Linked DNA regions of Homo sapiens: regions 2 and 3 are each reported to be linked to region 1. The links are microRNA targets in miRTarBase. Many come from high-throughput screens and were not tested one by one. Region 1 holds a microRNA gene; each other region holds the end of a gene's coding sequence.

The links. Region 1 holds the annotated microRNA hsa-miR-515-5p (UUCUCCAAAAGAAAGCACUUUCUG, at 1,673-1,696, shown strand). A microRNA usually pairs through its seed, bases 2 to 8, with sites in the 3' UTR of a target mRNA and lowers its output. Matches are read on the target gene's strand: a 7mer-m8 pairs with bases 2 to 8, a 7mer-A1 pairs with bases 2 to 7 and ends in A, and an 8mer does both.
Region 2: the mRNA of GINS3 is a reported target of hsa-miR-515-5p. Seed matches in the 3' UTR shown: 7mer-m8 at 2,077-2,083.
Region 3: miRTarBase lists TTC33 as a target of hsa-miR-515-5p. Seed matches in the 3' UTR shown: 8mer at 1,409-1,416, 7mer-m8 at 976-982 and 7mer-A1 at 656-662.

The regions. Positions count from the first base shown.
Region 1 is chr19:53,683,350-53,686,705 of GRCh38, forward strand. MIR515-2 (microRNA 515-2) reads left to right here and starts at 1,660; the gene lies at 1,660-1,742. It overlaps MIR519C (microRNA 519c), which reads left to right and starts at 3,120; the gene lies at 3,120-3,206. The region is part of intron 2 of LOC107985342 (a long non-coding RNA gene); the gene reads left to right.
Region 2 is chr16:58,404,299-58,407,298 of GRCh38, reverse strand. It overlaps GINS3 (GINS complex subunit 3), which reads right to left. Exons shown (of 3, transcript NM_022770.4): 3 at 1,152-2,800. The coding sequence ends at 2,570. Among named protein-coding and RNA genes, the nearest start is that of GINS3, 13 kb to the right of the region's middle.
Region 3 is chr5:40,713,314-40,716,669 of GRCh38, forward strand. It overlaps TTC33 (tetratricopeptide repeat domain 33), which reads right to left. Exons shown (of 5, transcript NM_012382.3): 5 at 1-3,185. The coding sequence ends at 2,832. It also overlaps a transcript of PTGER4 not described here. Among named protein-coding and RNA genes, the nearest start is that of PTGER4, 35 kb to the left of the region's middle.

The DNA of each region.
Region 1 (3,356 bases):
TCCTGCCCAGGGCCACTTCATTTGGTTTCTGGAGCCCAGTGGTCCTTCCTGCCTGGACTTGGGATCTTTTGGGGAAGTTTGGGATCTGGCTGGGCGTCTGCATAATCCATAGAAATCCCTGAGAGTCACTTCCCTTGGCTGACATCTCCATGTTCCTTACCCATTACCTTCCAAAGGAGACCCTTATCTGAATTACCAAAGGGGGCTTCCCAGAGCAGGGAAACCTGGTTAAATTTGTATTTCAGATTAACAGTATACTTGAGATGTACTTGAAGTAGAAATGATTGGCTGTGGGTGTCGGCATTTGTTTTTTCTAATTTTAAATATGGGACCATCATGAATTTGGGTGTCACTTTGTGCAGGGGACGTGGGAATCGCTGTCATTTTTTTTTTTTTTTAACATATGCTGCCAGAGAAGGCACTTAGGTGGAGAAATTACTCTTCGTGTGAGCATTCAGTATATAGAACTTCCTTTTCTGGGGGCAGTGTCTTATATATGATACACATTTTATCATATCATCTTCTATAGATAATATAATGATTAACACAAAACACTCTTCTACACACACAGAATACTCTTGTATCACTTTGGGTTTTTTTTCCTTCGTGTGTGTGTGTGTGTGTGTGTGTGTGTGTGTGTGTGTGTGTTATGAGACAAGGTCTGGCTCTGTCACCCAGGCTGCAGTGCAGTGTTGCAGTCTTGGCCCATGCCCCACCGCAGCCTCTGGAATAGCTGTCTGCAGGCCAGGCACGGTAGCTCAGGCATGTCGTCTCAGCACTCTTGGAGACCAAAGCAGGCTAATCACCTGGAGTCAGGAGTTTGAGACCAGCCTGGCCAAGATGGTGAAACCTCATTTCTACTAAAAGTACAAAAATTAGCCGGGCGCGGTGGCTCACGCCTGTAATCCCAGCTCTTAGGGAGGCAGAGGCAGGAGGATAGCTTGAGCCCAGGAGTTTGAGACCTGCCTGGGCAATACAGTGAGACCCTGTTCTCCACAAAAAGAAAAGAAAAAAAAGAAAAAAAAATTTTAAAAATGCAAAATTAGGTGGGCATCGTGGCACGTGCCTGTAATCCCAGGTACCCCAGAGGCTGAGACAGGAGAATTGCTGGAAACCTGGAGGCAGAGCTTGCAGTGAGCTGAGATCACGGCCCTGCACTACAGCCTGGGCAACAAAGTGAGACTTGTTTCAAAAAAAAAAAAAAAATTTATTGAGGAGCTTTTATGGCCTAGCCTGTGTTCTATCCTGGAGAATGTGTGTACAACAGTGTATATTCTTAAACATCATCTTAGATTCCATTTTGGATGCTTGCATGGGGACTGTGTGTCCCTGTACTGGGACTTATGTGAACACTTGGCTTCAAATCCATTGCTGTTCTCTAGAAATCCAGCCCAATTCTCATGGTTAAATATAAGGTATGTGTGGTAGGCATTGCTTTTTCTCTTTGGGGACAGAACTCAGGAGGATTGTCTCTTGATGAACAAGGCTAACCTGCTGAGCCTTTGAAGCAAGGAACTGGAGATGGTCCTTTTAGGGGTTTATATTCTGGATTCCAGAAAACATGCAGAGAGAGTCAATAAATGTATCTTTATTTTTGTGTCCATTTTAACCAGGTGAGGAAAATTCCGTCAAAAAACCCAGACTTTTGGAGCGAGAAGATCTCATGCAGTCATTCTCCAAAAGAAAGCACTTTCTGTTGTCTGAAAGCAGAGTGCCTTCTTTTGGAGCGTTACTGTTTGAGAAAAACCACGTTGAAGTTGATGCTGATCTTGGTAACACATTTGCAGAGCGTGCTTATCATCAGACTTGCATGATGTTGGGGTTCTGTTTTTGTTTAGTTGTTTTGCATCATGGGGTCTCTGTTGCCCAGGCTGGAGTGCGGTGGCGCTTCCAACCTAGATCTCTTGGGCTCAAGTGGTCCCGTGCTTGCTTTTTTTTTTTTTCTTGAAACAGAGTCTCTGTCTCTGGCCCAGGCTTGAGCGCAGTGGCATGTTATCTGCTCACTGCAACCTCTCCTCCCAAGTAGATGGGATTACAGGTGCACGTGCCACGACGCCTGGCTAATATTTGCATTTTTAGCAGAGATGCAGTTTCATCATGATGGCCAGGTTAGTCTCCAACTCCTGACCTCAGGTGATCCGCCTGCCTCAGCCTCCCAAAATGCTGAGATTATAGGTGTAAGCCACCCAGCCTAGCCTCCAATTTTTTTTAATGTGTGCTGCCAATGCAAGCACATATGTGTAGGAATTATTTTTCATGTGAGCACATAGTATATGGAACTTAATTTTTATTGATGTACGGTCTCAAAAATATATATTTTATCATATTCTTATTATACATGTAACATAGTCATATACACACAAAACACTCTTCTATACACAGAGAATACTCTCGTATCACTTTGGGTAATTTTTTGTTTGTGTGTGTATGTTTTTGTTTTTTTTTTAGATAAGGTCTGGGTCTGTCACCCAGGCTAGAGTGCAGTGGTGCCATCTCAGCTTATTGCAACCTCCACCTGCCACTTCAGCCTCTTGAGTAGCTGTCTACAGGCGCACACCACCACGCCCGGCTAACTTTTCTGTTTTCTCTACACATGAGGTATCACCATGTTGCCCAGGCTGGTCTCAAACTCTTGAACTCAAGTGATACTCCTGCCTCAGCCTCCTAAAGGGCTGGGTTTAGAGGTGTGAGCCACCACACCTCACCTGTACCTGTGTGTTTCTGCTCATTTTATTGAGGAGCTTTTACAGCCTGGCCTGTGGTCTCTCCTGGAGGGTGTTTGTGTGTGTGACAATGCATATTCTTCAACATCGTAGATTCCATTTTGGATGCCCCCGTCGGGACTGTGTGTCACTGTACTGGAACTCGAGTGAACACTTAGCTCAAAATCTATTGCTGTTCTCTAGAATCCAGCCCAATTCTCATGGTTAAATATAAGGTATGTATAGTCGGCATTGCTTTTTGAAACAAGGAACTGGAGATGGCCCTGATAGGGGTTTATGTTCTGGATTCCAGAAATCATGCAAACAGGGCCAATAAATGCATCTTTATTTTTGTGTCCATTTTAACCTGGTCAAGGAAAATTCCAACAAAAAATCAATGGTGCTGGAGCAAGAAGATCTCAGCCTGTGACCCTCTAGAGGGAAGCGCTTTCTGTTGTCTGAAAGAAAAGAAAGTGCATCTTTTTAGAGGATTACAGTTTGAGAAAAGCAACGTTAACGTTCATGCTGATCTCGGCAATACATTTGCAGAGCGTGCTTATCATCAGACTTGGATGAGGGTGGGCTTTTGTTCCTGGTTTGTTTGTTTTCTAAGACGGGGTCTCTTTTGCCCAGGCTGGAGAGCAGTGGCACTTC
Region 2 (3,000 bases), not on the chromosome of region 1:
GAGAATCGACAAGATTGGATATACTTCTTAACAAGAGCACTCTGGCTGCTATGGTGAGAAGAGTCTGAAGATGGAGTGGAGGGTGAATGCAGGGAGGCAGTTAGGGGGTGATCCCAAAACTCCAGGAAAGAAACGGTAGGGGCCTGGCCCGAGTGACAGCACCACAGGTGATGGGGAGGTGGCCGGATGCTGCAAATGATTTGACGGCAGACCCAAAAGATATGGAGCGTGAGAGGAGGAAGGTCAGGGGGGGACATAGCGTTTTTGTTCTAAGCAATAGGGAAGGATGGAGTTGTAAAAAATGGAGATGGGAAACATCAGAGGAGGAGCAGGCCGTGGAGACGTAGAAACATCAAGCAGGGGATTGGATACAAGTCTGGAGTTGGAGGGAGCGATCTGAGCTGGAGATAGGAATTTGGGAGCCATCTGCGTGGAGATGGAGAGGCATGGACAGCCCAGAGCCACCCAAATCCAGAGGTCACGAACAGCAGGAGGAATCAACAGTGACAGAGCCTTGCCCCACTGCTCCTGGCAGCCCACACTGTCCCTGGGAAAAACCTATATATACTGAGGTCTTCTGTCTGTAAGGCCACAGTCATGTGGGAACAGAGTGCTTCAGGGGAAAGGGCACAGCTTTACTCCCTGGAGTTTGATAGCAATTTGGTATTTGAGCCCATTTGTTGTGTTTTTTGAAAAATTAACCTCTTGAAGGGACCAAATCAAAATCTAAACGACTAACTGGAGGGCTGCTGGGGAGAGGGGAAGTCCGACAGGCTTGAAGGCAGATCTGTAATTGAAAATGAGTTCAAAAGCTACATGTAATATAATCTGTTCAAAATGTAAAATAGGGGCTAAGTTTTGGACATGAATACCTACATATTCCTGACACATGGCCCCTGAGGAATTTCTTTTTTTTAGGAAGTAGGAAAAAATGGCAGCAGACTTAGAGTTGACTTTAAATATAAAGCTATGTGTGAAAAGAATGATGCCAAAAGTTAAATAATATGCTTTTCTCGCTCTATGAATGGTTTCTCGGGCCCTGGCTATATATAAATGCTGCGGTAGTAATGGAAATCTCATCTTCCTAGGACACAGCACCCTCCTACAGAGAATGTACCTCCTATTTATGTGTACCACACAAGCAAAAGAGCAGCTGCTAAAACATGGATTTGTGTATTACCGTCAAATATGATCAAAGACACAATTCTGATAGCTTTGATTATCTGTAGTACTAGTGAAAGAGCACTTGTACAGAACATATTCATGTACAAAGCCAATCATTTATTTAGCACTAAAATCAAATTATAAAAACAACAATTCCATCTTAAAACAGGCATTTTAAAAGCATTTCTGTGGTTCTAAGTTTGCATCAAGACAGCCTAAGTTTGCATCTGCACAATCTGGATACCCAAATCCCTCTATAATTTCCAAAGACAAAGACAATTTTTGCTAGTTGTGAGGTGTCAGGGGGAAGCAGTGATGCCCTGCAAACAGTCTAATGGGCCCAGGGAACCCTGTTTCTTTCTCAACCTGAGGTTGCATCCTTGATCTCCAGGAAAAGAGATTAGTGCTTGCTTAACCAGGTTCCTAGTAAATGGTCAGGGATCTTCTATGCAATAATGTTGCAAAAGTTACTGAAGAGGAAAAAAAAAGCACAACGGAGGCTTCTTGCCCATTTACACTTGCAATGTTAGATTTTGAAAACAGGGCCCTTCATAGTCAGCACCCAAGTCCTGACTTCCAGATGTAATGCAGGCTGGTTAACAGCCCTTAATAACTACATTGCAATTCCAAACGACTCCCTGACAGCTTTTCTAGACAGGGAGTAGAATTAAGTGTGCGGGTGCTCTTAGGCTCTCCGAGGCAATAACAAGCTCAGTTTAACCATTTCCCTTCTGGGTTGACTGCTGAGTTATGCAGATTCCAGTTCATTAAGCCCTGAGTATAGAGTATGAGGCCAACATCTTTTCTTTAGTAAAAGCCATGCCATTCGTCTGCCTTTCCCTTTTCCTCCTTTATCTGGGCGACTGTTTTTGGAAACTGGGGTAACTCCCTGCAGGCAGGCAGCAGGAGATATCTCCAAGTCAGGCTGGCATGGTGGGGTGCTATCCTCTGTACAACCATGAGGAAGATGAGGCAAATAAGATCAAGAGAGCATTTTGTGAACAGGCGATGACCCAGTTTGTACCTGTGCTTTGTGGCTAGTGAAACTGTACATCTGAAGCTGTCCAAACTCCCAGACACAAGGAATCTCAGTTGCAACTCTACTGTGATATATTATATGGCAGTGATTCTTATTTAGGAAGGACTTTGATTTCTCCTTGGCCATGGGTTCTTGGGTTAAAGGGCCTGGGCTGTGGGTCAGCAGGGTGGGACGGTCCTGGAAGACTCACAGAGCCAGGGACACCCACATCCTCCAGCATGTCCAGTTCCCTATAATTCTCTATGGCCACAGGAAATAAGCCATGAAATGGGACAGGATTCTGGTTCTGTACAAGGTCAACCAGCTCCTATCAAGGACACACGGAGGGATACGTCTGTGAGGAGCCATTCTGTGTTCTTCCGGCTTTCAGTCTTCCATATCAGTGAATTTTCTCTTCTTGTAATTCTGAACGAGGTTGGAAGCTGTGATCTGAGAAGCCTGCCCCTTCTCCCAACACTGAAAGTCATTCAGTCCTTTCTGCCCTGTTTGAAATAAGCCCCTCTCCATCTCGTCTAGCCTGGCTACCAGGGCTGAAGTGTCTTCGTTGTAAGCATTCTGTGAGGAGTCCATGATGCGGCGAAAACGTCCGATAAAAGTCTGGGAAACAAGGGAGTAAGACAAGTCAGGGTTGACCTCACACCCCACAAAGTCATATCCATTTTTATCTCAGAACATTTAAATGGCATGAAAAGAAAGAATGATGTGTAGGACTCAGAAGGAGGTCTGAATTCCCTCTAGCACCCAAGTAAGTTATTGCACATTGCCATGCCTCAATTTCCTCATCTGTGAAGTGGATT
Region 3 (3,356 bases), not on the chromosome of region 1:
AACAAGCTTTTGAATCATTATGTAATTTTCAAACAACTAAAAGGGCTATACTGTTCAGTTATAATCTTAAAAATTCTAGCTGAGACAGAGCTTTTAAAAAATCTTTATAGTTTTACCATACGGCATCAATTCAAAAGATTGTCATACTGAAACCACTGCCATAAAATTTTGTATGTAGGCCCCAGTTGCAGTAGATCTGGCTCCTGTGAGCTATAACTTGCATGGCTTTTCAATGTTTATGTAGTGTCTGTTAATATATTTAAGATAAATACTCTATAACCAAACAGCCTGTTTTCTAGAGAATGATATATGATTCTTGTGTTATCAGGCATGGTCTGGATGTCTAGACACTCTGACTAATGAGTGTCTATGCCATACAATTCTCAAACAAGAATAATGTAAATTATAGTCAATATAACTTGAACAGTAAACAGTGTTATTTCAGAAAGTATATTAAACATCTATATCATTATCATGAACATCAATTCTCTTCAGATTCATAAAGATTTGTTATTAAAATTAACAAGCTTAGTCTATGTTTGTATATCAGTATTCACATCCTTGTAAAATAATGGGTGCATTTTTCTCTTCACGCATAGAAGAGTATGAGCTAAAATAAGCATTTTGAGGGGCCTGCAGAAATGAGCTGCCTTCCTTCTCCATAACTTACTGTTTCTTTTTCTCCTCTGTCTTATGTCTAAACTATTTTATGTCTTATATCTGGGTAAGAAAGAGACTAACTTGGCCTACCATGCCAGTACAGAGGAAACACTAGGTTCTTATAACAGGGCCTAGTGGCCACATGCATTCCATCCTGAGTCTTGCCTCTTTGGGACTTGAGCTATAGACCCTGTCAAGAAAAATCCCACTATCTCTCCTATAATACTGGAATCAGAGACTTCTTACTTTCAGATAAGGAAAGGATTACAAAAAAAGTTCTCCTTTTTTAAAATCAGAGGAAATTGAGGTTAAATATCTCCAAACTAACTCAAGTTCTTCATAGAAATAGCTAGCATTTACTGAAATAGCTGGCATTACTTCATGTGTGAGGCACCATGCAAGGTACTTTAAATATATTAAGTTCATATAAGAAAGACACTAAGTAGATCAATCTAATTTTTCAAAAGCTAACAACATAAAATAATAGGAAAATCTTCAAAATGCAGAAAAAAACTATTTATTCACAAATTACACAAAAAACAAACATCCATTACTCAAAACAATATACCAAATGTTGAGTACTCACTTCTCTAGATACCTATTTACGTTTTGAGAATGTTCTTTATTAAACAAAATAAAATAATTAACATATTTTTTGGAGCACTCTGAAACTAACCTCTCTAACCAGAGCTAATTTTCTGATGATATAACTTAAGGAAAGAATATTCTTTTCAAGGCAAGTGCTAATTTCTCCAACCCTGAAAAGAGATATGCATTCCAATAAAACAAAAGTTTTAAAAACCATCTTCATAAAAAATGTAGATCATTACTTATAAGCTCCAACAGTAGTAAGATCTTTAACATAAAGTGGGCTACTTTCATCTCTAACAAAGATAAAATTAATACACCAATAGTATCTTCCTGAGTGTCAGAAGTAACAGAACCCAACAGTTCTATATTATTGTACTACAATATATAGTATAAAAATAATAGTTCAGATTAGCAATGACAGTATTGGTTTGTGAATATGACTGTGGACTTTCAATAAAATTTTTTTTAATATAGCCTTTTCATACTCATGAGATTGTACTATAAATCACATTCCAATTTCTATGTATTTTGTGCTTAAGTTATTTATTCATTGGCACTCTAATAACAGCCCTACTTTTTTATTTTTAGAAAGATATAATTAGCTATTTAAAATTGTAATTATTTTTCATTTCACTGAGTAGTTTCAAAAAAAGTTATCTAGAAAAGTAATTCCCAGTCATCAAATGGAAAGACACAAGCAAGAAGTAAGTTGTTTCCAGGGTTTTTAAAGCTTTGTAAAATAAAGAAAAGAAAGTATTGGTTTTGACTGGGATAATATAGCAGTACAATTGTCATTAACCTATCTGTAAAAGCCATTCATTTAAAAATGCATATTTTAAAAATGACTCATTTGTGGTAAGGATTACTTACTGTAACAATTAAAAAATAAAACCATCATTCTCATATTTATCAATACTTTACACTTTTACCAAATACTGAAGGAGACAACTATCATTGTTACAACTTCAAAGTCAAAACAGAAACACAAATCAGAATTAAGAGAAACTTCAGAAAATGTTCAGAATGTACACATTTGTGTGCATTTTCAGCCAAACTTTCAAAGATTCCACATATAACCAAATGACAACTTTGAATCAAAATGAATGTCAAAAATATTCAAGCTTTCTGACAGACTTACTCTAATGAAGCAAGAAAAAGACAGCAAATATTAAGCGCAGTATATTTCTCAGAGGGAGGGAAATCACACACTTCCTTTATCATAAAACAAAAGTTGAGACAGCATTTCAGTAACATTGATCAAATTATTCACTATTCAAGAATACATTTTTCAAGTTTTGTCTTTAAAATGTATTCATTTACATATTCAGATTAAACTAAGTTTATTAATCAAAGACCATTTTACTCAGAATTTTAACCTTGAGAAATATAAATCATAACTTATCAAAGCATATTCCAAACACTATACAATAATCCTGCCATTTTAGTTTTTATATGCCTCATCTGAAAAACATATTTTACAACCAGGCGTTCTCCTATCTATCTCCAGAGTAAATGTCTCTATGTCAAAACTTCAAGAGGCAATCAAAAAGACAGATTCAAATAATCCTATGCATACTGCTTCATCGGGCTTTGATAAAAACAGAGCCATCTGGTGGTGTAGCACCATCCTCCTTTTCAGTTACAGTCTCTATGGCCCCAGAAGCAGACACAATAACCATTGTTTTATTTGCTGAAACTGTCTTCTCTTTCTCAGCAATAGCTGCACAAACAGCAACAATCTCATCACTTTCAAAGTCATAGTCTGGAATTGACTTTGGTGAAAAGTGTGTTACTTCAGCTGGTGCTTCACTTTTTTTAATCCTCTGTGCTACCTTCTGCTGCTCCTGGAGCGTTCTTGCCCAAGAGAGGTCTTCTTTCCATATTTCAGGGTTCATTGGATAGATGTGAAGGGCTACTTGAAAACTTCGAATTGCCTAGAAAATAAGGTCAGAGTTTTTTGTTTTGGTTTTAAAAATTAGTATGTTTAATACAATCCTGTGTGTTTACGTACATATATACTGTACACATACACATCCTAATGCATTATCTTAATGTACTAGAACACAAAAGATGGAAGCTACGGTGTTGCCCTAAACACTGGGGAA